7 separate regions of the Homo sapiens genome follow, and regions 1, 2, 3, 4, 5 and 6 are each linked to region 7. The links come from fine-mapping of genetic effects on gene expression. A gene starts in region 7. Each other region holds a variant in brackets. All regions are shown on one strand. Distances are from middle to middle. Region 1 overlaps KANK1 (KN motif and ankyrin repeat domains 1). Region 2 overlaps KANK1 (KN motif and ankyrin repeat domains 1). Region 3 overlaps LOC124902109 (a long non-coding RNA gene). Region 4 overlaps KANK1 (KN motif and ankyrin repeat domains 1). Region 5 overlaps KANK1 (KN motif and ankyrin repeat domains 1). Region 6 overlaps KANK1 (KN motif and ankyrin repeat domains 1). Region 7 holds the start of KANK1 (KN motif and ankyrin repeat domains 1).

Evidence for each region. PIP is the estimated chance that this variant, and not a neighbour inherited with it, causes the effect.
Region 1: its variant is the best candidate, but not a certain one, in a credible set for the expression of KANK1 in skeletal muscle (FUSION, PIP 0.82).
Region 2: its variant is the best candidate, but not a certain one, in a credible set for the expression of KANK1 in whole blood (TOPMed, PIP 0.86).
Region 3: its variant is the best candidate, but not a certain one, in a credible set for the expression of KANK1 in lymphoblastoid cells (GTEx, PIP 0.73).
Region 4: its variant is the best candidate, but not a certain one, in a credible set for the expression of KANK1 in cerebellum (GTEx, PIP 0.65).
Region 5: its variant is the best candidate, but not a certain one, in a credible set for the expression of KANK1 in esophagus mucosa (GTEx, PIP 0.84).
Region 6: its variant is the best candidate, but not a certain one, in a credible set for the expression of KANK1 in sun-exposed skin (GTEx, PIP 0.57).

The regions. Positions count from the first base shown.
Region 1 is chr9:704,811-708,875 of GRCh38, forward strand. All of the region lies in intron 2 of KANK1 (KN motif and ankyrin repeat domains 1), which reads left to right. LOC107987042 (phosphatidylinositol 4,5-bisphosphate 5-phosphatase A-like) reads right to left here. Exons shown (of 1, transcript XM_017015393.3): 1 at 2,098-4,065. The coding sequence starts at 3,515. The coding sequence ends at 2,613. Among named protein-coding and RNA genes, the nearest start is that of KANK1-AS1, 21 kb to the left of the region's middle. The variant A/G (reference allele first, on the strand shown) is at 2,254.
Region 2 is chr9:526,091-530,155 of GRCh38, forward strand. The region is part of intron 1 of KANK1 (KN motif and ankyrin repeat domains 1); the gene reads left to right. Among named protein-coding and RNA genes, the nearest start is that of KANK1, 23 kb to the left of the region's middle. The variant A/G (reference allele first, on the strand shown) is at 1,891.
Region 3 is chr9:749,204-753,268 of GRCh38, forward strand. LOC124902109 (a long non-coding RNA gene) reads right to left here. Exons shown (of 4, transcript XR_007061394.1): 2 at 1,148-1,382; 3 at 133-293. Among named protein-coding and RNA genes, the nearest start is that of KANK1-AS1, 66 kb to the left of the region's middle. The variant A/G (reference allele first, on the strand shown) is at 1,941.
Region 4 is chr9:630,076-634,140 of GRCh38, forward strand. The region is part of intron 1 of KANK1 (KN motif and ankyrin repeat domains 1); the gene reads left to right. Among named protein-coding and RNA genes, the nearest start is that of KANK1-AS1, 53 kb to the right of the region's middle. The variant G/A (reference allele first, on the strand shown) is at 1,530.
Region 5 is chr9:742,997-747,061 of GRCh38, forward strand. It overlaps KANK1 (KN motif and ankyrin repeat domains 1), which reads left to right. Exons shown (of 12, transcript NM_015158.5): 11 at 1,495-1,593; 12 at 2,177-3,107. The coding sequence ends at 2,239. Among named protein-coding and RNA genes, the nearest start is that of KANK1-AS1, 59 kb to the left of the region's middle. The variant T/A (reference allele first, on the strand shown) is at 2,042.
Region 6 is chr9:674,459-678,523 of GRCh38, forward strand. KANK1 (KN motif and ankyrin repeat domains 1) reads left to right here. Exons shown (of 12, transcript NM_015158.5): 2 at 2,432-2,551. The coding sequence starts at 2,515. All of the region lies in intron 2 of KANK1-AS1 (KANK1 antisense RNA 1), which reads right to left. Among named protein-coding and RNA genes, the nearest start is that of KANK1-AS1, 9.1 kb to the right of the region's middle. RefSeq lists an enhancer at 1-173. The variant T/C (reference allele first, on the strand shown) is at 2,496.
Region 7 is chr9:502,716-506,780 of GRCh38, forward strand. It overlaps KANK1 (KN motif and ankyrin repeat domains 1), which reads left to right and starts at 1,980. Exons shown (of 12, transcript NM_015158.5): 1 at 1,980-2,039. LOC105375947 (translation initiation factor IF-2-like) reads right to left here and starts at 2,838. Exons shown (of 4, transcript XM_047424276.1): 1 at 2,545-2,838; 2 at 2,224-2,454; 3 at 982-2,106. The coding sequence starts at 2,838. The coding sequence ends at 1,285. RefSeq lists a silencer at 1,616-2,105.

The DNA.
Region 1 (4,065 bases), 200 kb after region 7:
TCTCTATTAAAAATAATTTTAAAAAATTAAAATTAGCCAGGCGTGGTGCTACATACCTATAGTTCCCAGCTACTCAGGAAGCTGAGGCGGGAGGATCACTTGAGCCCAGGAGATAGAGACTATAGTGAGCCATGATCGCACCACGTCACTCCAGCCTGGGCAACAGAGTCGGACCCTGTCTCAAAAAAAAAAAAAAAAAAAAAAAAAGAGCAATACCCACGTGTTGTAAAAATTATAAAATATAAAGAATAAAAATCATCTATAATTCCACAACCTAAAGATAACAACTGAAACAATATCATGGAAGAAATGTCCTTAACACTAATATTTAACGAACAACTTCTGTCTTCAGAGCATCAAGATGTTTTTCAAAGTTTATTATCTTATTCTGTTGGCCAGGCACAGTGGCTCACAGCTGTAATCCCAGCACTTTGGGAGGCCGAGGCAGGCAGATTACCTGAGGTCAGGAGTTTGAGACCAGCCTGGCCAACATAGTGAAACCCCATCTCTACTAAAAATACAAAAAGTAGCTGGGCGTGGTGGCACACGCCTGTAATCCCAGCTCCTCGGGAGGACGAGGCAGGAGAATCCCTTGAACCAGGGAGGTGGAGGTTGCAGTGAGCCAAGATGGCGCCACTGCACTCTAGCAAGTTTATTATGTTATACTATATATTCAGTTATTTATTCCTTCAGTAAACGTTGTCAGACATCTCCTTTCTTCCCAGCATGTTGATAATTGGTGTGTGGTTGGGAGAGGAAGCAATGAAAAAAAAAATGTATATTTTTTTTGGGGGGGTGGGGGCGGAGATGAAGTTTTGCTCTTGTTGCCCAGGCTGGAGTGCAATGTGTGTGATCTTGGCTCACTGCAACCTTCACCTCCCAGGTTCAAGCGATTCTCCTGCCTCAGCCTCCCAAGTAGCTGGGATTACAGGTGCCCGCCACTATGCTTGGGTAATTTTTTATATTTTTAGTGGAGATGGGGTTTCACCATGTTGGCCAGGTTGGTCTCGAGCTCCTGACCTTCAAGTGATCCACCCTCCTCGGTCTCCCAAAGTGCTGGGATTACAGGCATGAGCCAGCGTGCTCTCCAAAAAAAATTTTTTTTAATTAAGTTTTTTGCTCTCTGGGTGCTTATAGTCTGGTACAAAAGACAAAAAAGTGTTTTCGTCTTGTTAAAGTTGGGAAATAAATCAGGGACTCATAAGTGCCTAATTTATGTTGATGTATGTAAACATACACTAGAAAACAGGATATTAAAAAAATAATGACACCGGGTAGTTTTATTGTAGAATAATTTTTACCATGGACAATTGTTTGTGAAAATGACACCTTGAAAACACATCTTACTTTTTTACTTGCTGGAGAATGAAACTTGAATTACAAGTCCTTTGGGTAGCCTGGTTTGAGCAGTATTAGGAAATAAGCAAGCCTAACTTAGTTAAATTCTAACCTCTTCTGATTCCCAGAAGTCCAAAGTTCATTTGGGGGTAATACAACGTGATACATGCTTTTTGTGATTTCTACAAGGTGAACTAAAGAAATAACTAAAGATGGACCAGTTAGGTTTTGGTAAAAACTGTGATAAGTTTTGTTGTGTTTTAAATACTGATGTTGAGTCAGTTCATCTTTCCTACTGAAAATCCTTAAGTGGGAAAAGTATAGAAAAAGTAGGAGTTACACCAAAATATTAACGCTTGCCACTTGATGGTAGGATCTGAGTGCCCTTTTTTTACGTTCTTTAAATTATCTGTATGTGGCTTTTTTTTTTTTTTAATGTTTTACAAGCATGTACTACTTTCGTATCTGGAAAAAGGTTTGTTTTTCTTTCATTTTTTAAGAAGAACTTTTCATCAGTGGCAAAGGCTCAGTTGAAATTAATGATAAAGGATAACTACTTGCCACGTGTCATAAGCCCAGGGCTGAGAAGAGTCAGGCAGTGCTCTGGAACCAGTGAGTGCTGCCCGGATCCTGAGAACCCGCAGAGAACAGTGGGGCTGATTGTGCCTCTGCACCTCCTCAGGTGACCGAGGGCTGGGCAGGAGGACACAGACTCTTTCATGAAGCAGTGACTAGTATAGGAAAAACAGAGCCTCTCTGTAGAGATGCTTAAAGTGCTAGCTTTATTTAAAAATCAGCTGGCAAAGCGGGAGTGAAGAACACACATTTTCAGAAGATACCGGTTTCCTGTTTTCATTAAGAAAACAGGGAATGCGGAACAGCTGAGTGCGGCGGGGGTGGTGTCACTGCAGCCGG[A/G]GGGAGACCTCGCCGGTGAAAGCTCAGCCTATGGCATCCGAGCGTGGCCGGCCAAGTTTACACGAATGTTGAAACTTCTCCTCACGGGGTGAGGATCGAGGGCGCCCGAGGCCGGGTCCGGCTGAGCTGGAGCGAGCTGTGCGGGGCAGCGCGGGCTGGCGGGGAGCGCGGCGGGCGCCACGTGGTAGGTGAGCTGCGAGCGGCGTGGGGCGGCCACCGCTGGCCGAATTCCGGGGGGCCTGGGCGAGGGGGGCCGGCCGGGAAGGTGCGCACTGCTGGGCCGCTTCACTCCACCGCAGGCCTACGGGAGTCCAGCTTAGACCCGCCGGCTCCCACACACACATCCCGGGAGGCCCGGATCAGCCTGCCTGACAGCCAAGCTGCAGCTTCTCTCCTGTTAATGGAGTTTCAGACAGTCCTGGAGACAGGTCTGGCTGCTGCAGCTTCTCTCCTGTTAATGGAGTTTCAGACAGTCCTGGAGACAGGTCTGGCTGCTGCAGCTTCTCTCCTGTTAATGGAGTTTCAGACATTCCTGGAGACAGGTCTGGCTGCTGCAGCTTCTCTCCTGTTAATGGAGTTTCAGACAGTCCTGGAGACAGGTCTGGCTGCTGCAGCTTCTCTCCTGTTAATGGAGTTTCAGACAGTCCTGGAGACAGGTCTGGCTGCTGCAGCTTCTCTCCTGTTAATGGAGTTTCAGACATTCCTGGAGACAGGTCTGGCTGCTGCAGCTTCTCTCCTGTTAATGGAGTTTCAGACAGTCCTGGAGACAGGTCTGGCTGCTGCAGCTTCTCTCCTGTTAATGGAGTTTCAGACAGTCCTGGAGACAGGTCTGGCTGCTGCAGCTTCTCTCCTGTTAATGGAGTTTCAGACAGTCCTGGAGACAGGTCTGGCTGCTGCAGCTTCTCTCCTGTTAATGGAGTTTCAGACATTCCTGGAGACAGGTCTGGCTGCTGCAGCTTCTCTCCTGTTAATGGAGTTTCAGACAGTCCTGGAGACAGGTCTGGCTGCTGCAGCTTCTCTCCTGTTAATGGAGTTTCAGACAGTCCTGGAGACAGGTCTGGCTGCTGCAGCTTCTCTCCTGTTAATGGAATTTCAGACAGTCCTGGAGACAGGTCTGGCTGCTGCAGCTTCTCTCCTGTTAATGGAATTTCAGACAGTCCTGGAGACAGGTCTGGCTGCTGCAGCTTCTCTCCTGTTAATGGAATTTCAGACAGTACTGGAGACAGGTCTGGCTGCATATTTTGAGTGATCACCTTCTCCATGTGGAGATGAAAGTTAAAAGGGAAAGAGAGAAGGACAGCTACGTTCTTTTAACACGAGCACAAGTTTCCAGGCACAGCCCTCCCGACCAGCCCTCCCATTCTTAGGCTAGAGCATGACTGCTGCTGGGCACTTCTTTCACATAGAATTCACTTCCCACACGTGTTAGAATCGAACAGCTAGAGCAATTTAATATTGTTTTAAATTGGGACGTAAGGAATATACGTCCTTTTTATTCCTCTGCTTGGCAATCTTATTTTTGTACTTTCTTTCCAACATTTGGGAAGAAAGCGGGCAGATGGAAGCAGAAGTGTTCTTCACAGCATTCACACTGTCGGGTGTAAATGTTCGGCAGTGCTGGGGGTTGGGAGGGCAGACAGCAACCAGGTTTGCTGGAAGTTACTTCAAACTGGACAGCAGTCAAGTGGGTTTGTATACTCAGGAGAGGGCAGGGAGACTGATGGCTTACATTTTCACTCATTGCTTTTGAGTTCTTTCCATAGCTCTAAAAATGCGCAGCTTATTAGCGTGGCTCTGGGAAAACAACACATG
Region 2 (4,065 bases), 23 kb after region 7:
AAAGTAGGAATTCTGATTTTATTTTGTGATCTTAGTCACTTTACAATTATAAAAATTTTGGAGCTAATGAGAAACCTGAAAAATTCTGAAGTCTTCAAGGAGTGTGATCCTGGTGCTGTCTCTCAGGCATTTCTCCCAGAGAACGGGACGGCAGAGCAATGACTGTTCCCCAGCCCACAGGTAGGAGCTGGTGGGCAGCACCAGCAGCAGTAGACCTAGAAGTCTTAGACTTAGATGTGATTTGAAATATGGCTTTTATTATGGGAGCAGCACACATAAGACCATCATTGGTTCTCATATGGGAAAAACCCTTGAATATTGGCTCTAGGACAGATTTTAAGGCTGGGTGTGGTGGCTCGTGCCTGTAATCCCAACACTTTGGGAGGCCGAGGCTGGAGGATTGCTTGAGGCCATGAATTCAAGACCAGTCTGGGCAACCTAGCAAGACCCTTTCTGTACAAAAAAATAAAAATTACAAAAAATTATTTAAATGAAATTTAGCAATGTTTTATGTACGTGTCTTCTCATACTTCAAAAAGTCAAGTTGTTCTACAAAACCGTCCATGAAAACAGTAGCTTTCTGCCCTGCTTTTCCCACCTGATTCCCTCTCCTCAGAGGAATCTCTCATCTATCTTCTGATGTTGAACCATAAGAAAATGCTGATATTTGACTGCTTTAGATCTGTGAAAATGACTGTATCTTGAGAAAGCATGCTTATCATGTCATTTCTTGATTTTTTTAAATTCAATTTTGGATATTTACTTTCCTCACACTGTGGAAGATGAAGATATAACTCTTATGACTTCCCCCAACACGTCTCTTCTCCTGCTGTAATATTAATATGATTTTTGTTTGATTAATATATAATGTTTATAGTATTATTTAGACTGGAAATAATTCACAGCCAAGACATGTAATTTAAATATTTCCTTCCTCATACAGCTTTTGCCCACCCAGAGTTAATCATTGTTTTGAGTGCTTGTTTTAAGTACCTGTCACTGACTCATTCCCAAACTGAAGCCTAACCTTCCTTTCTGTGTGTTTGCACACCTCAGGGTAGCTGTCCATTCATCCTTTCTTCCTGAAGGCGTCCCTTCTGAAGTTTCCAGGCCGTTCTGTACCTTCTCTCTGTTTCTCTTCCCTGGATACTATGGTATCCTCCTCCTTTGTGGTTTCTTTTGGTCTCTGGTTTTTGTGTGTTTTTTGTTTGTTTGTTTGTTTGTTTTTGAAATGGAGTTTCACTCTTGTCGCCCTGGCTGGAGTGCAGTGGCGCGATCTTGGCTCGCGGCAGCCTACGCCACCCAGTTTGAAGTGATTCTCCTTCCTCAGCCCCTCAAGTAGCTGGGATTACAGGCAGGCGCCAACACACCCAGCTAATTATGTATTTTTGGTAGAGATGGGGTTTCACTATGTTGGCCAGGCTAGTCTTGAACTCCTGACCTCAGGTGATCTGCCCACCTCTGCCTCGCAGAGTGCTGGAATTACAGGTGTAAGCCACTACACTCGGCTGCTCTCTGGTCTTGGTAGAGAGCATTGGCCAACAGCTTCTGCACAAGGTTACAAGGGAGATAGTCTCCTTGAGATTTGGCATATCTAAATTGTCTTTTTTTTTTTTTTCTTTTACCTTCACACTTACTAGTTTGGCCAGGTGTACAGTTCTAGTTTGAAAGTCCTTTTCCCTCAGAACTTTAAAGAGATTGTTCCCTTAAGTTCCAGCTTTTTATTAAAAAAAAAAAAATAGAGTTTCCCCTCACTTCTCTTTAAAAGTTTTTAGGGGCGGGGCGCGATGGCTCATGCCTGTAATCACAGCACTCCTGATCACAAGGTCAGGAGATTGAGACCATCCTGGCCAACATGGTGAAACCCTGTCTGTACTAAAAATACAAAAA[A/G]TTAGCCAGGCGTGGTGGCGGGCGCCTGTATAGTCCCAGCTACTCGGGAGGCTGAGGCGGGAGAATGGCATGAACCCGGGAGGTGGAGCTTGCAGTGAGCCGAGATCGTGCCACTGCACTCCATCGAGCCTGGGCAACAGAGCGAGACTCCGTCTCGGGAAAAAAAAAAAAAAAACTTTTTAGGATTTTTCTTTTTGTCCAAGTATTCTGATTGGTCTTTTTGCATTCATTTTTCTGGGCACACAATGGCCTTCTCAAACTGGGAACTTAATGTTTTTCAATTATTGGAACATTTAAAAAATTATATTTAGATAACTTTCCCTCTTTTCATTGAATTTGCATTTTCTAATGTTGGTGGTCCTTCTGGGCAATCCTCTGATTATCTTACCTTTTTCTCTCCTATTTTCTATGTCTTGGTCTTTTTATTCCATTTTCTGGTGGATTTCCTCAGCTTTACCTTACAACCATTTTACTGAATTAAAAAATAACTTTTTTTTTTTTTTTTTTTTTTTTTTTTTTGAGACGGAGTCTCACTCTGTCACCCAGGCTGGAGTGCAGTGGCTTGATCTCGGCTCACTGCAGTCTCTGCCTTCTGGGTTGAAGGTTGAAGCAATTCTCCAGTCTCAGCCTCTCAAGTAGCTGCGTTACAGGTGCCCGCCACCATGCCCAGCTAATTTTTGTATTTTTAGTAGAGACCTGGTTTCACCATGTTGGCCAGGCTGGTCTCAAACTCCTGACCTCAGGTGATCCAGCCGCCTCGGCCTCCCAAAGTGCTGGGATTACAGGCATGAGCCACCATGCCATTTTCAAGCTAATATGTCTCAATTTTTTTTTCTTTGAGGCAGGATCTTATTTGTAAGCCAGGCTGGAATGCAGTCTTATGATCACTGCTCACTGCAGCCTTGACCTCCTGGGCTTAAGCAATCATCCCACCTCAGCCTCCCGAGTAGCTGGGACTACAGGTGCATACCACCACGTCCAGCTAATTTATTATTTGTTGTAGAGATAGGGTCTCACTATGTTTCCCAGGCTGGTCTTGAACTCCTGGACTCAAGTGATCCTCCTGCCTTGGCCTCCCAGAGTGCTGGGGTTACAGGTGTGAGCCACTGTGCCTGGCCCATGGCTCAGATTTAAAAGATGTAAAAGGTGTATAGTGAAAAGCCACCCACTTCCTGTACTAGCTACCATATTCTCTCTTTACAGGCAACTGGTATTCCTCCTTCCAGAGATAACTCTGTTAATATATATATATATACACACACACACACACACACATATACACACACACACAGACACACACACACATATATACACTTTTTTTTTTTTTGAGACGGAGTCTTGCTCTGTCGCCAGGCTGGAGTGCAATGGCGCCACCATGCCCAGCTAATTTTTGTATTTTCAGTAGAGATGGGCTTTCACCATGTTGGCCAGGATGGTGTTGATCTCTCGACCTCGTGATCCACTTGCCTTCGCCTTCCAAAGTGCTGGGATTACAGGTGTGAGCCACCGCGCCCGGCCTCATACATATTTTTAAAATGTGTGTATATGATCATATTCTCTCTCCCTGTGAAATCACAGATGATAATAGACTTCATATATTGTTATGCATCTTTTTTTCATAGAACCATGTGTCTTCAGACTGCTCCATGTGGAGGTATGGGTTTCTTTTTAAAATCATTTTAAAGAGCAGCATAGTATGATTTTAAACTCCATATTTTGTTTAATCAGTTTCCTATTGATTTGCTACATCCAACAATGCTGCAAGGGGTAACTTTGTACGTGTATTATGCTCACACGTGATAGTGCCATGTGTGATGAATATGGAATTACCAGGTGAATGCATATGTGCATTTGTACTTCTCACAGATGTTACTCCAGCTGCCTTTCATGGAAGCTGTGCTAACTTATGCTCTCACAGGCAAGGCATGAAAGCACTTGTTTCTTTATATCGTTGCCAGTACAGTATGTTATGACATTTCTTAATCTTTACCAATCTGTTAAGTAAAAAATGGTATCTCATCTGTTTTTAATTTGCATTTCTCTTAGGAGAATGAGCATATTTTCATAAATTTATAAGAGCTGTTTGTATTTGTGTTTCTGCGAACTGTTCATATCCTTTGCCATTGGGCTGTTACCAAGTTGTATGACATTATACCTAAGGGAAATAAGCCCCTC
Region 3 (4,065 bases), 250 kb after region 7:
TGTTTCTGAACATAGCCTTTGGTCCACACTAAGAAGCTGTTGCTCCCAAAGTATGAGACATGATGCATCTGTTCTTCCCCACACATGTTAGGCAAGGTGGGGGAACTACATCAAAACAAACATTGGCTTTACCTTAGCTCTCTAAGGAGCCGGGCTTCCACTGGTGATCAGGATCCCACATAGGTTTTCTGTGGTGCTGCACATCCATGTTCAGTAGCATTTCTGCATCTCCTGGAATATAGTCATTTCTAGAAGTCCAGGAACCATGACTGCCACAGATCCATTTTTCTGTGCTTGTAAGGACCAGAGAAGGTGGCTCAGTATATAGGTGACAGTGGCTGGGCAGGCAGACAGCCCTTAGAATATTTTCCCAAGCTAATCTTTTCCATTTCCACTTCCTCGTGGAGTTGGACTATTACTGCTCAGAAGGAGGCCATGAACCATTGCTTTGGCTTTGGAATAAAGAATTTTCCATTTTCTTTTTTTTACTAAAAGCACCTTTTTTTTAAAGCCCTAGGCCTTAGCCAGAAACTGTTCTACTTTCTGCATAAGGAAATTACTAATCATACGTTTTCTCTGCTCTTATTCAGCATGGCTGTAATTTAAAAGCCAGCTGATTATAAAAATATAAAGTACATTTTGTTGCAGTTTCTTACCACAAAGGATGTGGCTGAACCGTAGACCACAACGTTCCTGAGCTGCTCACGCTCGAACCCCTCCCCACTGAAGGCACCAGCTACTCCCTGCAGGGACCAGACAGTCATGGCTTTTCAAGCATGAAAGATGGCATTATTTGGAACTTGTAATGATATCCTTGAGATACCTATCCTGAATTCTGGCAAGGATCTTGCAGTGAAGCTGGAAAACAACATATCATTTTTGCAGGTGCATGCTTAGACAGAAATGTCTGATTTAGAGGATGTTGGGAAGGAGCTGGCATTTTAAGAATCCAGCTGCCCACTGCATCTCCATTAAGACCTTTGTTGATTAAATAGGTAAGAGGATGGAAAACATATCCCTCATTTTCATAAAATGGAAGCTGCATAACAAATATTCCTATTTCTAAAACCAAATGTCAATCTTGTATTTGAGCCAAAATAACTTTTACACTTGTTCCCCATTCCCCAACCCAGAAGGAACTAGTTACCCAGCCCTAGAAACCACCTGGAAGGCTAAGGCTGTACGACTGAGGGCGAGAGAAAATCCCTGAGCTGCAGACAGGCAGGTGCTGCTTTGCTGTCACTGGTGCAGGCAGCTCGATGCCTTGTTGAGGCTGGTTGTAGGAGAGCAAGTGCCAGCTGGGCAGGCCGCTTCTCATGTGTCGGGCAGCAAAGAGATTCTTGCTATGGTCCCATCTGCTCTTTTAGGAAGTACTGGATGTGCTTAAACAGGTAATAAGGAAAATATTTATTAGGTAAAATCCCTGAGAGTTCAGAGAGCTCACCCACCCCCAATCCTGCCTAAAATATGTCACCCCCACCCCCAGAAAAATCCAGTCTTCCAACAGGAAGCTTATTAGGATGAAATCTCATGCTTCGGTTTGTAACACCATCTGCCAGGACTGAGAAGTTCCGGTGCCTAGCTGAGAAATACTAGTTGAATGAATGAGTGTAAAAAAATAACTGATGGTGTTAGAAGTCAGGAGTGTTGCCATGAGGGAGCTGGAAGGAGCCCAAATGGGGCTGGTGGGCTCCTGGTAATGGTCAATTTCTTGCCTGGGGGGTAGTTGCACTGTTATGCTCACTTTGTGACCATTCATCAGGCTGTAGACACACGTGTGTGCTTTCCTGTATGTATATTAACTTCAATTTTTTTTAAAGTTTAAGAAAATGAAAAAGTTTGATCAAAAAAAACCTTGGGAAGGAAGGTGCAGATTTGAGAGTCAATATAATCAAAGAGATAGTGAAAGAAGGTAAAAACTGGAAACTCTTAGCCCTGCT[A/G]TTTCTTGAATGTGACCACATAGTTTTGCATGATGGCCATTGTGGCCCACTCGTAACCTTGAATAGCAGTCACGAGGGCTGTTCTCAGATACTCCAGTTCTTTTTCTGGGCACAACAGGATCGGATGTACTACCCACACACTTTTGAAGTTACACTTGGCCATGTGACTTCTCCAATGAAACAGAAAAGGTTATGTGTCAGTTCCAGATGGAAGCCTCAAAAGCCAGTGCAGTTTACCGTATCTTGTACTCCCCTTGTCACAGTGATGATCACGGAAGCAAGTGTTGACACAGACATCCCATTAGTGTCGACCCTGAGTGACTACGTGGAATAGAGTTTCCTTGCCAAGCTGTGTTGCAGGTGTATTAGGAACAAGAAATAGTCCTTTATTATGCTAAGCCAGAGAAGCTAGGGAGTGACTTGCTGTCACAGCGTAACTTAGATTTTCTTTATCCATACAAAAACTGGTTCCTCGAAGTGAAGTGCTGCTGTGTAACCAAATGGCTTAGTTGATTGGCGGACAGCAACAAAACTGTCACTGGGGACTTAATCATAGAACAATGACAACTATTTGGATGACTATTTTCTTAATAATCCCCAGGGATGGTACATACCAGTACCATCCTAGTTGCAGAGAGAGAATGTAACCTATTATCTACAGTGGATGCCTTAGGGCACTAGGGACTACATATTTTTGTGAAAGGAAAGCCATTTCCTGTGTACAGTCTGCCTAGATTGTCTCTTAGAAACGTGTAGCTCTCAAACTTTGGTGTGCATCGGAATCCCCAGGAGGGTTTGTGAAAACACACTGCTGGGCCTCAACCTCGACTTTCCAATTCGGTAGGTCTGGAAAGAGGCTCAAGAATTGGCATTTCTAACAAGTTCCCAGGTGGTGCTGATGCTTCTGGTCCAGAAACCCCACTTTGAGAAATGCTGCTCTAGAGGAAGGGCTCTGATAAGGAGGATTCCTGTCCATCAGGGAGCTCTAAAGTGTCTGTTCTTTCATCTTTGTAGGCTTTCGTCTTTTGCAGTTTCCAGTGACTAAACCTTATGAGTTAACTTGTTCCCTGTGGAACTTTTGCTTCCCAGTATAAAAAACAAATTCTGCAAAGATACCATTGCCCAATAGGAAGTCTTTCTACAGCTTGTACAATATATCAAGTGTTTATAAATCCTGTATTCATCCAGAATTTGGCCATAGAACTTGACTCACAGCAGTCTTAAAAAAAAAAAATGACTCATACATTTCCCTTAGAAAGTAATGTTTCTTTATGCTAATCCCATGAGTTTCTGTGTCAGCTCACTCCCTTATGAATGCACATTTTAAAAAATCATGGTTGGCCGGGTGCGGTGGCTCATGCCTGTAATCCCAGTACTTTGGGAGGCTGAGGTGGGTGGATCGCCTGAGGTCAGGAGTTCGAGACTAGCCTGGCCGACATAGTGAAATCCTGTCTCTAATAAAAATACAAAAATTAGCTGGGCATGGTGGTGGGCACCTGTAATCCCAGCTACTCAGGAGGCTGAGGCAGGAGAATCGCTTGAACCCGGGAGGCGGAGGTTACAATGAGCCGAGATAGTGCCGTTGCACTCCAGCCTGGACAACAAGAGCAAAACTTTGTCTCAAAAAATAATAAAAAAAATCATGGTCTCCTCTGGAAACCCAGGTGGCATGGAGGAGAGTGTGCTGCACTGCTGCCCTCTCAGCTGCTGCCTCTGCATTCCATCCTGGGTTCTGATTCTGCCATCAGGCAGAAGTGCACAGTGTTTTTCCTTTCCAGAGCAGAAAAACGGTCATCCTAGGTGTTCACACTGAGATGCAAGAGACTGAGTCATCTGTGTTGGAAAGCCACAGGGGTCCAATGAACCCAGGAACCAATTGAAGATCCTCTTGCCTAAGGACACATATGGTATGTCCACAGCGCTAAGTTCAGAGACCAAGTTGAGATGAGTTAGAAGAGGGAGAAGACATCAGTGTTTCACTGGGAAAGGAGGCAACTTGTTTATATCTTCTCTCATCTGTAAATTCACCTCCAAGAGACAAGACACTCAGAAAGTACACTTGCTGAGATTGATTAATGGAAGGCCTTGAATGACCAAAGGAACGTTAATGAAGTTCCCCATATGC
Region 4 (4,065 bases), 130 kb after region 7:
TGTCTCCACTAGAAAATACAAAAATTAGCAGACGTGGTGGCATGTGCCTATAGTCCCAGCTACTCAGGAGGCATAGGTGGGAGGACTGCTTGAGGCTGGGAGTTCGAGGCTGCAGTGAGCTGAGGTTGCACCACTGCATTCCAGCCTGGGCAACAGAGCGAGACTCTGTCTTAAAAAAAAGAAAAAAAACGAGTTGGGGGGCAGGCACGGTGGCTCACGCCTGTAATCCCAGCACTTTGGAGGCTGAGGCGGATCATGAGGTTAAGAGATGGAGACCATCCTGGCTAACATGGTGAAACCCCATCTCTACTAAAAGTTCAAAAAAATTAGCCAGGCATGGTGGCGGGCGCCTGTAGTCCCAGCTACTCGGGAGGCTGAGGCGGGAGAATGGCGTAAACCCGGGAGGCGGAGCTTGCAGTGAGCTGAGATCCCGCCACTGCACTGCAGCCTGGGCGACAGAGCGAGACTCAGAAGGATAAAAAGTAATAACCTGAAGAGTAGCTTCGTTTCAGGTGGAAGGTGAGAGAGGCTGCAGAAAGCTTAGGGCTGGGCGCGGTGGCTCATGCCTGTAATCCCAGCACTTTGGGAGGCCAAGGCGGTCAGATCACCTGAGGTCAGGAGTTTGAGACCAGCCTGGCCAACATGGTAAAACCCTGTGTCTACTAAAAATACAAAAATTTAGCCAGGTGTGGTGGCAGGCGCCTGTAATCCCAGCTCCTTGGGAGGCTGAGGCACGAGAATCACTTGAACCCGGGATGTAGAGGAGCTCCTTGGGAGGCTGAGGCACGAGAATCACTTGAACCCGGGATGTAGAGGTTGTAATGAGCCGAGATCATGCCGCCACACCCTAGCCTGGGTGACAGAGCAAGACTCTGTCTCAAAAAACAAAACAAAACAAAAAGTGCTTAGTCAATATCTGGTTGTTGATTGTTTAAGGAAAAGGCCAAGTGAGGGTATGACTGGTTGGTAGAAATATGTATCTTGGTATAAGCAGTTCTAGGAGTGATATGTGTCTTTTGCTGCTGTTATTGTTGTTTCTGTTCAGCGTTAATACGTTTTGCATTGTACCACAAATATTTCCTTACTCCTTTGCCTTTGAGACAAAGGGCATGAGTTTATAAGTTGAGTTGAAAATAGATTAAATATATAGTACAGCCTATGCCCAGCAAGCAGAATTATCTATGCAAGTTATGCAGCCCACACGGAAAAAGAAATGCTGTGCGGCCTCATTAGCACCCCAGGATTTGTGGGGCTCCCCCTGGGCAGCCTTAACCAGGAAAATTTCATAGTCTCCTTGGCATTCCATCCAAGATTTAAGACTTCTCCTTTCATCTCCTTGAGGACCATCAACTATACCCTTGAGCTCAGCCATCCCACGCACTGAGGCTTATCTGTACTTCCAGCCCAGACCTCCCTCCTAATTCCCCACTATACCTGTGCACTGAAACACCCTCTTAGGATCTCCTTCTTCCACATTCCTCCTCCTCTAGGCAAGGCAAGTCGTTTTCCTCATCTCAGCCAGAGCAGTA[G/A]TTACTGAAAACTAACCCAATATGGTGGCTTCTGAGCTCAGGTGTCTTTCAGTGACTCCTGCTGCTTCCAAAATAAAGTCCAACTGTTTAGCTTGGCATGCAAAACCTGTAGTCATCCATCCCTTGCATATTTAACTCCTCACACACCCCATTCTGTGGTCTCTTCTTCCCTTTGCATCTGCTCTGGGTGCTCTTTGAAGACTGTACTTCCTCCCCTTTGGGGCCAATTTAGTCATCTTTAAGCCTCATTTCAGGGGTGGTGTCCTCAGATAACCCTTCTTCACATACCAGTTTGGGTTATCTACCGCTGTGGCTCTATAGCTCTCAGCTCACACCAATAGGATAAGTATTTAACATACTGTTAAATTACAGTATGCCATGATAACTTCTCTTCCATCATTCTGTATTGCATGAGTACAAAGACTGTGTCATTAATCCCTGTCTCCGTAGCATTGTGTCTAGCCTTTAACAGTCACTTAATAAAGGCAATGAAAAGGAAATAACATTTGACCTTCAATTTAAGTTTGACTAGGTATGGTCAAACGTTAGAAAGTGGCAGTGAACTTCTTTTGAAGTCAGAATTCATATTTTCCTTTAACATCAGATATTGGCAGCCAGCTTTTCCAGATTTTCTTGGCCAAAAATATTACTAAAATTGCATGCCCCTAGATTTTGATATCTAGGATGATACATCTACAGCATGTAATTATTTGTCTCAATAATTGAGCTTTACCTTAGGGCTCTAAGAGAAGAGGTTAAAGGAATCAGTGGTTTAGTAATTGTATTGTTAATCTTAAAATGAAAGTTGAATGGAAAATATTTTAAAAACTGGTTAAGAAGATAATTATTGAGAGCATGGAAAAGATAATTACTACATATACTGTAACTGGTGAAGATGGAGGTTTTATGAAAAATAAAGCAGCTTGTAATTTTTTACAACTTCTTTCAAATGCACCTTGGACTGCCAAGGTGAGAGGCAGGGGAGGACATTTTCATTCCGTGGAGTCACACTGAGGATTTATCTTGTAATTGATTATCACATTATCTGCTTTGATCCTCATGAGATAATGAGAGTGGTGTTTTGTTTTGTTTTGTTTTTCTTTGAGATGGAGTCTCTCTCTGTTGCCCAGGCTGTAGTGCAGTGGTGAGATCTCGGCTCACTGCAGCCTACACCTCCTGGGTTCAGGTGATTCTCCTGCCTCTGCCATTCGAGTAGCTGGGTTTACAGGCATGCGCCACCGCACCCGGCTAATTTTTTTTTGTAGTCTTAGTAGACACGGGGTTTCGCCATGTTTGCCAGGCTGGTCTGGAACTCCTGACCTCAGGTGATCCACCTGCCTCAGCCTCCCAAAGTGCTGGGATTACAGGCGTGAGCCACTGCTCCCAGCCTGAGAGTGAGTGTTTTAGCAAAGCAAAACGGCAGAGGTAACATGGCCCCCTCCCTCCACATCTTATGAGGTTTCCTACCATTTTCTGTCCAATCGTGACTTTTTCTACACTCACTTTTAGTGCCCCATAAGAAGGATATTTAATGAAACCTTTTATGGACTATTGATAAGAACCCAACCCTTGACCGGGCGCAGTGGCTCACGCCTGCAATCCCAGCACTTTGAGAGCCGAGGCGGGCAGATCAGAAGGTCAGGAGATCGAGACCATCCCGGCTAACACGGTGAAATCGCATCTCTACTAAAAATACAAAAAAAATTAGCCGGGCGTGGTGGCGGGCGCCTGTAGTCCCAGCTACTTGGGAGGCTGAGGCAGGAGAATGGCGTGAACCCGGGAGGCGGAGGTTGCAGTGAGCCGTGATCGCGCCCCTGCACTCCAGCCTGGGTGACAGAGCGAGACTCCGTCTCAAAAACAAAACAAAACAAAAAAAACACCTTTTTTTGTCTTGCCATTCAAGTTACTTCCAACAGTGCTACCCCTTCTCCCAAGACTCTTAATGTAGTCTGTCTGTCCATAGCATTGTATCCAGATTCCTGAACCTGGCATATGAGCTCTCAATAATTCATTCTGACTCATCTTTCCAGGCTTACTGTTTAAATATGTTTTATTTATTAATGTTTGAGACAGGGTCTCGCTTTGTCACCCAGGCTAGTGTGCAGTGGCATGTTCATAGCTCATTGCAGCCCTGAACTCCTAGACTCAAAGGGTGTTCCTGCCTTAGCCTCCCAAGTAGCTGAGATTACAAGCACATGCCACCACACCTGGCTAAGTTTTTATTTTTAGTAGGGACAGGGTCTCCTTATGTTGCCCAGGCTGGGCCCAACTCCTAGCTTCAAGTGATCCTCTGGCCTCAGCCTCCCACAGTGCTGGGATTATAGGCATGAGCCACTGCACTGAGCCATAAATAGATGCAAGTCAAAATCCAAGAAAACCTTGAAACAAATTGCCTTACATGGTAAGAAAGGTTTATCTTTTTCATAAGTTCAGAAATGAACTTCTGGGGTTAATTAATTTGTAATTGCCCAATTGCACACACAAAGCCAATTCACTGAGACTGTGATATTGCAGTAAAGAAAGAGTTTAATGAATG
Region 5 (4,065 bases), 240 kb after region 7:
CATTTCCAGATAACTCCTTGACCGGGAAACTCAACCAAAGGGGGTACTTTTGCGTGTCTCTAGGCCAAAGGACAGGAGTGGTGATAGGTAGAAGGTAGGAACTGGCATGTAGGCAGTGAGATGGTGTAAAGGTCACAGAGGTCGGGTTGGCTTGGTTCCGTTTTTGAAAGTTTATCTCTGTGGATCACAGGTTTGGATCAGAGCTTCTTTAGCTCAAAACACCAAAAAGTTAGGAAAATATCCTTTGTAGGTCAGATTCTTCTGGGCCCAAGCCAGTAGGGAGAAAAACCAGCGGAGTTTTTCACTGGTATGAGGGACTGACTAGCTTCACACTCAGCCATCTCCACAGGAGCACATGGAAGCTGCAGCTGTAGCAGATTCCCTTCTTCCCCTCTGTGGGAGGGAGAGCTTCTGACCGACTTCTTTCTTCCAGAAGAGTTTGTTAGCTGTGCTGTGGTTTTTGTTTGATTTTACTTCTATTATCTTTCAAAGCTTTTGAGGGGAAGGATCATAAGATTAAACCAAAGAGAACTGTGTCCTGCTGCTGCTGCTGACCAGAGGGAAATCCGTATTTCAAGACTAGATAGGCTGGGCACAGTGGGTCACTCCTGTAATTCCAGCACCTTGGGAGGCTGAGACAGGAGGATCGCTCGAGCCCAGGAGTTCAAGACCAGCCTGGGCAACATAGTGAGACTCCCATCTCTACAAAAAAAAAATTATCTAGGTGTGGTGGTATGCACCTGTAGTCTCAGATACCGTGGTGGTTGAGGCAGGAGAATCACTTGAGCCCTGGAGGTCAAGGCTACCGTGATCTGTGATCGTGCCACTGCACTGCAGCCTGGGAGACAAACCCTGTCTCAAAAAACACACTAGACAGAAGACAAGTTGTGTTGTTCTTTCCCTTGATACTCCTTTATATCCATTTAAATCCCTGAAATTTAATGGAAATCAAGCAGTTAAGTGAAGCTTTTTTCACCCATATGTAGTGTTTCCCCTCTTATTTCCAGAAGTTGGATCTGTGCAACCCACTGGGATTGCGTGCTTACACACAGATGTTACTTGTAGCCTTAAACCGAGGTGGTTTAGGGTTTTAGGATCACAGTGCCCTCTCTAAGAGGAAAGGTAAAAGATCTTTGGCAAATTGCAGAGTCTCTAAACACACACTACTGCTGCTTGCCTGGTCATTCATAATTAATTAGAAGAAAAAAAAACTTTCTATCCCCATCTTCTGCTTCCCCCTCCTGGTGGGCAGAATGGTTGAGTAAGATAATCCTCTTAACTGGGACCTCTGGAGGGTGGAGGCTTGCCTCATTCATCTTCACATCCTCAGGCCTTCACCCTTAGAGGTCCCAAAAAAGTTTCCCAGAAGACCGAACGAGTAGGGATATTTGGGGAACCTTGCCAATTATTGGAGGGTGTTTTGTTCTGTTACCTTTCGGTTGTCTGGAGGTTTGAGAAACCCAACATGGCTTGTTCTTTCCATCTTATCTTAAGGATGGCAGCACTGCGCTCTCAATCGCCCTGGAAGCAGGACACAAGGACATCGCTGTTCTTCTGTATGCCCATGTCAACTTTGCAAAAGCCCAGTCTCCGGTCAGTGTTGTGCATTTGGCATTTGTAAATAGGCTGAAATCCACCAGACTGGTGGACCCCCTTCCTCCAGGAATTGACGGGAGACAGATTTTATGTTGATTCAGAAAATGGAAGTTTTAGTCTGGAGCTTAAGAGTTCATCCTTTCCGCCTCCACCCCGCAAAAAGCAGGAGAACTAATGTTTTAGCAGAGGCTGGACCTTGCTTGTCCTTGCAAGACATATGCTCACAGCTTCCCATAGAGGTTTTGATTCTGTGCAGAATTATCCAGATAGCAGCCCCTGAGCCCATGGGGATATTTCGCCATGGTTCTGGCATTGTTCCTGAAGCAGATGGCAGGCAGCCTGTAGTCCACAGTTCACTCTGAGTGGGAAGGTGACTTCCCAGGACAGCCGGACATAGCACTGCTGAGCCCAGCTGGCCTTGGAGCTGTGGACACCTGTTCCCTGT[T/A]CTCAGCCAGAGCTCTCCTGGCTCGGGCTCACAGCTGCTTGTTGCCTGTGGTGGGCCAAGATCCTATGTCACAGGGTACACATCTGCCTGAGGTCACTTATTAACCCCCAGTTTTTTTCCTTTCCTGGTCTCTAGGGCACCCCTAGGCTTGGAAGGAAGACGTCTCCTGGCCCCACCCACCGAGGTTCATTTGATTGATTGTATGCAAATAGCCCTTTATTTACATGCCACTATTAAGCTGCTAATTGTTCCTGTTGGGGTGACAGATACTGAATGTATACGTATTGTGCCTGAGCTCACCAGCAAACAGAAGCATCAAGCCCAGGGGTAAAGGCTGAAGCTTTCACAGTGCAGAGACTGCTAGCCTGGGCACACACACCTCCTTTCTGGCCGTCTTCTGTGTAGGGCACACTTTAACCCAGTCTCTGTTGCTGTTGAGTCTCTGCTCCGTTTTGTACAGTCACAGGGAATTCTGATCTGAAGGGGCACCTTCTGTTCACTCCCACAAAGTGGTGTCTGGTTCTCACTGAGACGTTTTAAGATTTTTCCACAAATATTTATATGTACTAAATGTGGAACCATTAGAAAGTTCTTCCAAAATCTCATTCCAGCATAGTTTTGGATTTTTCTTTTGTCTTATTTTAAAATAAGGAAGTCGAGATGACTTTGATCATTGGTAACTTGGGCCTGGGCCAGACAAAGTATAAAACTTACAAAAGAATATTCTCATTTGGTCTTAACTAGGTAGATGTAATATATGACTTTTTATAAAAAGGGTATCTATATGAACTTGACACAGTATTTTCAGCTTTTGTATTCCATACTAAAGCCATGAAGAACTACACGTAACATCATCATTTGTATTAATTGCACAACTCCAATGCTAAAGGTTGGATTGTGTTAGAGGAATCGGCTCTGTATTTGCCTCTAGAGAAACACAGTGTTCTCTTTGTATTTATGGATTCCTTTTTACCGTGTCACATTTACTTTGGTCCTCTATGTATTTAAATGTTTGAAGTGCCTTAGACTCTTGCCATATTTTCAAAATAAAATTCCATTAAGCTCTTTTCCTTGTCCCTGTTTCATCTCTGATAGCTGTCCGCCCCGAGCCGATTGACTTACGGCAGTGGCAGCACACGCTGATGGATTGAGCTGAGCAGGGAGGGTGAGTGCGCCAGTTGGCTCCGACAGGGAGACAGCATCTTCCGAGGGCGCTTGTCCACTTGCACAGCTTGGCTCCTGACTCAGATTGCAAGTCGGGAGGCTGAAGTTTGAGGCCTCCTTAGACAAAGCGCTCTTCCGATGGGTAGCCGGAGATGCTTCTTCTCAGGTGCAGAAGCACTAGTCCTTGACTCTGAGTACAACTGCTGGGTGACTAGGTGATACGTGTAGTGACAAGAAAGGAGAGATGAAGCCGGACACTTTTTTTTTTTTTTTTTTTTTGAGAATGGAGTCTCACTCTGTTGCCCAGGCTGGAGTGCAGTAGCATGATCTTGGCTCACTGCAAGCTCCACTTCCTGGGTTCACGCCATTCTCCTGCCTCAACCTCCCAAGTAGCTGGGACTACAGGCGCCCGCCACCACGCCCGGCTAATTTTTTGTATTTTTAGTAGAGACAGGGTTTCATCGTGTTGGCCAGAATGGTCTCGATCTCCTGACCTCATGATCAGCCCACCTCGGCCTCCTAAAGTGCTGAGATTAAAAGCATGAGCCACTGCATCTGGCCTCAAATTCTTTTTAAATAGTAAAGTAAGTTGGGACCATCTCATTAAATGAAGCAGCATGGCAGCCAGAATTCAAACCAGGTGTTCTGGCACAATCGCTGGTGGTGAGTTTTGGCCAAGGCCATCTATGAGAGCCAAGTGCACTGGAGAAATATCAGAGACTTCTTCTTTCCCTCCCTCCCTCCCCCGCTTTTAAAAATTAAACATTATTGAGCTCAGGAAAGAGGCCAGAGAATAGACTTTTCCCATAGGTGTTTCATTATGAGGTCTGTTTCAGAGTCAAGATTTGAACCTTTCAGAG
Region 6 (4,065 bases), 170 kb after region 7:
CTTTGAACTGTGGTGCAAACCCATTTAAACAATGAGGGAAATTTCACTAAGTGGCAAGAAATTCTCACCCTGTGTGATCAAAGCAATCAGCCATTTCCTTTTCTTTCCTTTTTATTTACTTATATTTCTGACCCCTTATAATCTTCATGATTGTAGCCTGATAGTTTCCTTTTTTGAATAGCATTTAAAAAAATACCTTTTCTTTTCCCTGAGGGTTTTAAAGCAAATAAGACAGAAGGGGTCTAAATTTTTAGTTTTGTTTTTTGAGACAGTCTCGTTCTGTCGCCCAGGCTGGGGTGCAGTGGTGCAATCTCAGCTCACTGCAATCTCCGTCTCCCAGGTTCAAGTGGTTCTGGTGCCTCAGCCTCCCGAGTAGCTGGGATTACAGGCGTGCACCACCAGCCTTGGCTAATTTTTGTATTTTTTAGTAGAGAAGAGGTTTTGCCATGTTGGCCAGGCTGGTCTCAAACTCCTGACCTCAGGTGATCTGCCTGCGTCAGCCTCCCACAGTGCTGGGATTACAGGTGTGAGCCACCGCACCTGGCCTAAATATTTATTTTTAATAATGATTATTATTACAAAAGTAAGAAAAGAGCTAAAATCCATGATTTCATCACCCAGAGGCAACCACCACAGTGAACATTTTGGTACAATTACTTCTCATCGTTTAAATGTGTACATATACACATACATATTTTTAATAAAATTAGGTTTAGGATAGTATACAGTTTTGTTTTTCTTTTAACCAACATACTTTGAATATTTTGCCTTATTAAAAACTTATATGATTTCAATGGCTGCATTAGAATTAGTGTATACAGATATTATTTTGGCATTCTGTTGTTAAGAGGTCATGTGGGTTTCTGAATTGACACTTTAATTCTCAACTTAGAATTTATTTCTCCCAACTTCTTCTGATTTCATGGGTCTAGAGTCAGAGTTTGGGCACAATGGAAATGGGATTTCTATATGTACTGTTGTTTACTGTTTGCTAGTATTTTTCGAAAGGTATTTGCAAAAACCAAAGGGGAAACAGTATACTTTTTTGTATTTTTTTTTCTTTTTTTGTTTTAAATTTTGTGATTGAAATATAAGTCTTATTATGGTAATCTCAGGTAACTTTTAAATAGAAATATCAATGCAAAATGAATATATTGCCCAATGTGGACCCCGGTGTTTCAGAACTATGTGCCATGCTCTATCATTTTGTTACTGGAAAGGGGTCTTAATCCAGACCCCAAGATCTTGGATCTCTCACAAGAAGGAATTAGAGGTGAATCCATAGAGTAAAGTAAAAGCAAGTTTATTAAGAAAATAAAGGAATAAAGAATGGCTACTCCATAGGCAGAGCAGGAGCGTAGGCTGCTCAACTGATTATACACACAGTTACTTCTTGATGCTAAACAAGAGGTGGATTATTCTTGTGTTTTGCAGGAAAGGGGTGGGTAGTTCCTGGAAGTGAGGGGTCCTCCCCTTTTTAGACCATATAGGATAACTTCCTGACATTGCCATGGCATTTGTAAACTGTCCTGCTGCTGGTGGGAATGTTTTTTAGCATGCTAATGCATTATAATTAGCATATAATGAGCAGTGAGAATGACCAGAGATCACTTTCATCTCCATCTTGGTTTTGGTGGGTTTTGGACGGCTTCTTTACCACAACCTGTTTTATCAGCAAGGTCTTTGTGACCTGTATCTTGTGCTGACCTGTCTCATCCTGTGACTAAGAATGCCTAACCTCCTGGGAATTTAGACTTAAAATAAAGGTCTCAGCCTTATTTTATCTAGCCCCTACTCAAGATGGAGTTGCTCTGGTCCGAATGCCTCTAATAATTTGAAGTTTATCCAACGGCACAGTGGGAGATAATGAATTTTTGTTTAAGAGGAGGAGGACTGACTGGATCAGATTTGTGCTTTAGAAAGGTGGTTGCATGTAAGAAAGAGGCGTTGGTAGAAAGACTTCGGATATCTCAAAAGAATTTCCATGAAGTTAATCTTTTTAAAAATGTAAACATTTGGTGCAATAATTGCTTTGAAATTGCAGTTGAATAAATGAACTTTTTGAACCAGAATTTGGAAAGGAAGATATGCTTAAAAACCAAAAATATTTCGTAGAGTGCTACACATTAGGAAGTCATTTGTATTTGGTGACCACTTTCCTAAAATAGTCTCATTTCTAGAGAACCAATTTTGTTTCCCATAGATTATTATGTGTAGAGACCCCCTTTCAGTATGTAGCCACTGGTACATCCGTGGGTGTTATCTCCATACTGCCAGGTCCAATGCAGTCACCTCCTGGATCTATAGTCTTTCTCCCCCCATTCCGATTTCCTTTCTCTGTTAGCAGTCATCTTTGTAAACAGAAGTCTAAGATTTAGTTTGTACATTTTTTAAATGATCCATTTTGATGGGGCTCTCTTTATTGTTTCAGGTTGAATGCCTTTGAGAACTTGATGCATAAAATTTGCATGACTCCTCACTCCTTTCTGGATCTC[T/C]CATTGGACTCAAGCCAGCATGGCTCACACCACAAAGGTTAACGGCAGTGCCTCAGGTAACCCTGTGCTCTGGAGTTTGTGTGTTAAATGTATGTCTTTTCTCAAACTAATTTTTTATTCTCTTTAATAATGAACGGATAATAGCAAGTTGCCTAGATAACTAGGATTTCAAAGCAATTTTCTGTCCATTGAAGTTTGGGTTTGTTTTGTTTTACTCTCAGAAAATTTGCTTTTATCTTAGAGTCTTGCACTGAAATCAATTGAGTAAATTATTACCTAAGTCAATTCTGTTGAAGTGTTGAAAGACAAATGTAAATACTGAATGCTGATGCAAATGTAATGTATACTCCTCTTGCACTTCTTTCTGAGGGATTGAATGAGGAGAGAGGAAATTAGTTTGGATGCTTAAAACCAATTCCTAGTAGCCACTCCCAAGCAGCTTTTGTTTGATGTTGCTAAACAAAGAGAAAGGAGGGAAGAGAAGTATATATTCTGTAAAATGATTCTCTTAGGAATATGCAACAAGCCATATTATGAATCATAAAGACCTGTATTTGAATTCTTATTTTGGTTATATTAGAGACTTACATAGTTTCACTTTCTGTTCCAATATTGCTTCTGTGAGATTCGGGAGAAATCTGTACACGAAATGCAGAGAAGATCCTCCTAAGAGACACATCACCATAGGGACAACCTGCCCAAAATGGCGTGCCAAGTGTTCATTTCTTTTTTGAGTTATGTGCCAAATAGCTGAATGAGTAAGAATAGTAATTGTCTATGCAGAAATTTTTTCTGAGCGTCTGAGTCCAGACTCCTACGTCTGCTGGCTCTGAACACCTTCAAATGACAACATTATATACTGGAGCAAGTGTAGAATTGGAGCCAGGAAACCTGAATTTGAGTCCTAGTTCCAGCACTAACCGTGAAATATTGGGCAGGGCTATTTCTCCACATGTAAACCATCGGTAAGTATATCCACCTGCCGGTTTAGGACCAGTGAGCGCACCAGAAACATACTTAGAGGAGCTATGTAAGCCGTAAAGCACTTTTGAAGACAACAGCAGGAAGTGACCTCTAAAGTGGGCATTCCCAGCCCATGAATGTGACTTTTTATTCTAGCGGTCTCAGCTGCAATTATCTCCTCTGGGTAGAACACTATAACCCAAACCCAGATAAACTCAGTTATTTGTTCTGGGATGACTGATCTTTCCCTGTCCATTCCATTTTTGACCTTTTTTACTGCCCAGCTTCTTGAGACTTTTATAGATTCTGCTGTGGGACTGCTATCAATAATAAAGACATGAATGATAATATCTAACATTCATTGAACACTTAAATGCACCATGGTGCCTAAAATGCTTTGCCTGCATTTTCATACTTAATCCTCACAATAATCTAATGAGATTAAGCTATTATTTTACTGTCATCATCATCCCTATGTAATGTCACAGAGAAGTTCAGGGACTTACTGTAAATGAAGTAAGAAAAATCAGAATTATGGGCAGTGGCTCACACCTGTAATCCCAGCATTTTGGGAGGCCGAGGGGGATGGATCACCCAAGGTCGGTAG
Region 7 (4,065 bases):
GGGTTTCACCATGTTGGCCAGGCCGGTGTTGAACTCCTGGCCTCAAGTGATCCACCCATCTCGGCCTCACAAAGTGCTGGGATTATAGGTGTGAGCCAGTGCACCCGGTCGAGGGCACTATTTATTTATTTATTTTTGAGACAGGGTCACACTCTGTAGCCTGGACTAGAATGCAGTGGCTCAATCTCTGCTCACTGCCGCCTCGACCTCCAGGGCTCAGGCGATCCTCCTACCTTAGCCTCCAGAGTAGCTGGGACTACAGGCGCGCGCCATCGCGCCCAGCTGATTTTTTTTTTTTTTTTTTTTTTTTTTTGGTGAAAACAGAATTTCACTGTATTGCCCAGAACTCCTGGGGTCAACTGATCTACCTGTCTCGGCCTCCCAAAGTGTGAGGATTATAGGCCTGAGCCACTGCGCCTGGCCGACGAGCACTTTTAAAATGCAGGAGTCTTCCTGCCTCTGATATCTCATCCCTTATCACCATGCAAACAATTCTCCTTTTCATAGAAGAGTAGACATTTGGGGCGGGGTGGTGGTGGTGGGGGATTTTAGAAAATATCTACTGCATCCAAATGCCCTACTCTACAGACGAAAAAGCAAGGCCCAGGAGGAGGAAAGAGTTTGCTTACTGCCACCCAGTGAGCTGGCAAAGGCGCTGAGATTCAAAATGAGCTTTCCTGCCTTCACATATCTTCCGGCTGCCCTTTGCCTATTCCCTAAACAGTCAGGAGCCATCAAGTTCAGGAATTTGCAGGTGTGCTTCGCTGTGAACTGTGGAAAAGCAGCGTCTTCTCCCCAGAGGCAAGCATGTCGCCTTGTGAAGTTTGATGGCTCTTCACTTGCACACTCACAAAAAAGACTGAGCGTGTGTAACGCCCTGCTGGATGTGTGCGGTGCTAGAGAGCTTGGGGGTGAGGGGAGGACTCTCTCCCTTAAGAAAATCAGTTGACTGCAGAGCTAACATTGTTTTTTGAGTAATACCTGGTTTTTATAAAGTCGTCCCTTCAGTTCCCAAGCTCCTCTTCTGTTTGTTCAAGCCACCTTCAATTTGAAAAAGACTGAAGTCACAGCTTCTCAATCCCTACTAATTTCTCATGGACCTACTGGATTGCTCCAAATCGAGTATTTGGGACTGAACTAGGAAGCCAGTTCAATCCTGAGCCCCCGAGGCAGGCGTTGGGTCTTCTGTGGAGTCCCCAGAGACCTGCAACCTTCTGAACACGCATCCTCCCCTTTCCGCCGAGGACTCTGTCCTGCAGCCGAGCCAGGGCGAATGCACGGAGGTCACAAGGGAGGTGCCCTTGGAGGCGGGAGGTTTCTGGCCGCCGGGGCGACCGTGCTGACGAGGCACCTGCAGGAAACAGAGCTCTGCACGCTCCGGTCCCCCTCACCCGGGGAGGGAGAGGAGGTACAGAGGCGCTGGGGGAGGACGTCGAGCAGGCCAGCCTCGTTGCCAGAACCCCCGCCCCAGCCGGAGATGGGAGCACCGCACCGTCTCACGGGGGCTGGATTTCTTCTCCCCTTGCGGGTGTGTGTGCGAGGATGGACGTGGTAAATACGGGTTGGCAGAAGGAGCGAACCGCGGTGGAGGAAGTTCTTCTGCTTAGTTCTCGCCGCGGCGAGGCCCGCGGGCCAGGCGCGGCGACGAAGGTGCACGAAGGTGCCCCGCGGGCCTGGTGGAGTTGCAGCGGCGCGCAGGCGCACTGAGGGCCGCCCGCGGCCGGCTCCGCGGTACAAAGAGCGCCCCCGCGGGGAGCCGGGCGTCCTCTGGGCGGAGGGAGCAGCCGGGGCTTCGCCGGCCCGCGCCGTTCTTCTCACGCGCCGCTCCGGGGCGCAGCCACAGCTGTCGCCCACCGCGGGTGAGAGGCTTGCTGGTCCGCCCCGGCTTCCCCGCCCCGGCGGCGGCCGTGCGGTTCGGGCTTTAATTCTGGCGCTTGCCAGCCGGGGCCGACTCCGCCCCCTGCGCCCCGCCCTTCCCCGAGCTCCGGGTCCGCGGCGGAGCGAGCGAGCGGCCGGCAGGTTGGGAGGAGCGGCCGAAGGTGAGTGACGCGGCGGGGCCGTGCCGCGCCCCGTGCCGCGGCGAGGTTGTCCCGGAGCGCGAGGCCCCTACCCCTGCCTCGGGCTGGCCCCGCGCGGAGCCGACTTGGCGCGCGCCGGGGTTGCGCGGCGGCCGTGGCGGTGGCGGAGGGCAGCCCCCGCGGGCTCCCGCTCGTGCGGGTGAACCCGGCGGCCTCGGGGCGGTCCTGGGGGGGGGTCCGAGAGGTGGCGTCGGCCCCGCGGCCGTCGGAGTTTGGCGCGCTCTGCAGCGGCGGCGCTCGGCCGGTCTGGAGGAGGGAGAGGCGCGCCGGGCACGGAGCAGCGAGAAAGTTCGGGCCGGGCCGGCCGGCGGGAGGGTGCGGGCGCCTGGCTACCCCGGCCCGGCGCTCTGTCCCTCGGATGCCTCTGGGCCCTTCCCTAGCCCGGGGCGGAACGGGGGACCCTCTCTGAAGCGGCTCTCCGTGGAGTTGGATGTTGCCCTTCGCGGGAGGGAGTGGCGGTCAAGACCCCTTTATCCTCGGCCCCAGAGGGGCAGGTGGCCTCGGGTCGCCCTCCGCCAACTCCGAGGTGGCTTCGGCCGGGGCTGGAGGGCGGGGAGGCGGGGGAGGGGCGTGGGCGCTGCGGCCTCTGGGGCGGCCCAACCCGGCGCGGGCAGCGTGGGTTTCCGAGGTCCCGCGGTTCCAGGTCGAGGGAAGGTGTAGGGGCCCTGAAGCGGGCTGGTCCCCGAATGTTGCGTTTTCTGTGCCGCTTTGGGCAACACGCAGTGGCGCTCGCGGCAGCCACGGCTCCTTGACCGTTCATCTCCTTCACCCGGGTCCCGTGGAACTTTCAGAGGCAACTGTTCTTGGTGGCTCTTGCGGGTCAGCACGAGCCGTGCTGCACGAGCGTGACCTAGTGAAGGCCTTGGGCGAGTTGGCGTTAACAATTTATGGCGTCCGCCAGCGCTCGCTTTCCGCACGTGGCCTCTGCGGAGGGTCAGCCCATCTTATTAAATAGTGGATTCTATTAGACCCTGATACCCGAGGCTAATAAGGAAGCTTAATCATCCAGATGTGTAATCGTGCAGTTCCTTTCCTCACCGTCATTGCCCCCCACCTCTGGAGCTGAATGGAAATGAGGGTCTGTTTGCTTATATTGAATTCCTGAGTTTATTCAAGTTCATTTTTAGGTGGCGTTAACAGCTAAGTAGCTGTTCATCTGCCAGTTTCTCCTTTCATCCAACTTTCTCTACTAAAATGTTGAGCACGTTTTATTTAAAAAAAATTGAAGTGTAATAAACATATAAATTTACTCTTCTAAGGTCAAAATTCAGTGGTTTTTAATATATCCGTAAAGTTATGAAATCATCACTACCATCTGATTCCATTTCGTTGCCCCCAAAAAGAACCCCTATACCGATTAGCAGTCATTCTTCCATCTCCCAGCCCTTCTCCCTCATTTTAAGGCAGCTACTTAGGAAGTTTTTCTAAGATAGAGACTGAGTGAGAAAACTGAGAGGTGATTAACTTTGATCCTTTTTCTGTTACTAGGTTTGGGGAAAGGTGCTGCTGAAGCAATGGAAGAAAAATTAAGTATTGGCTGTCCTATGGGGAGGTTAAAATGAATAAGGATGGAAGAGAAGCTGCCAGTAGAGGAATAATTGCCTCCTGTAGAGACCCACAAGTTGGGAATACATTTTATCCCCTTAGGGCACAGGGATGCTTTCTGGGCTCTAGACTTGCCTAGTCCATAAATCACTCTAGTCGAGGTTCTGCCTCAGCGAAAGTGAGTTCTGGGTGTGTGTGTGTGTGTGTGTGCGTGTGCGTGCGCGCTCGGCAGGGAATGTTAGAAGGAAAAAAGACTAGGCTTAAAAGTAATTTTTTAAAATATCCAAACTGGCCCCAAAGAAAGAAACCAAAAAACCACAGGCAAATGGCCACTGGAATTGATACATTCAAGACTAGTTTCATTTCATGAGTATCAGTTCACAAATAGTTCTGAGTTAATGTGTGCATACATTAACTTTTTATCCCAAGTGGGAGGAGGAGG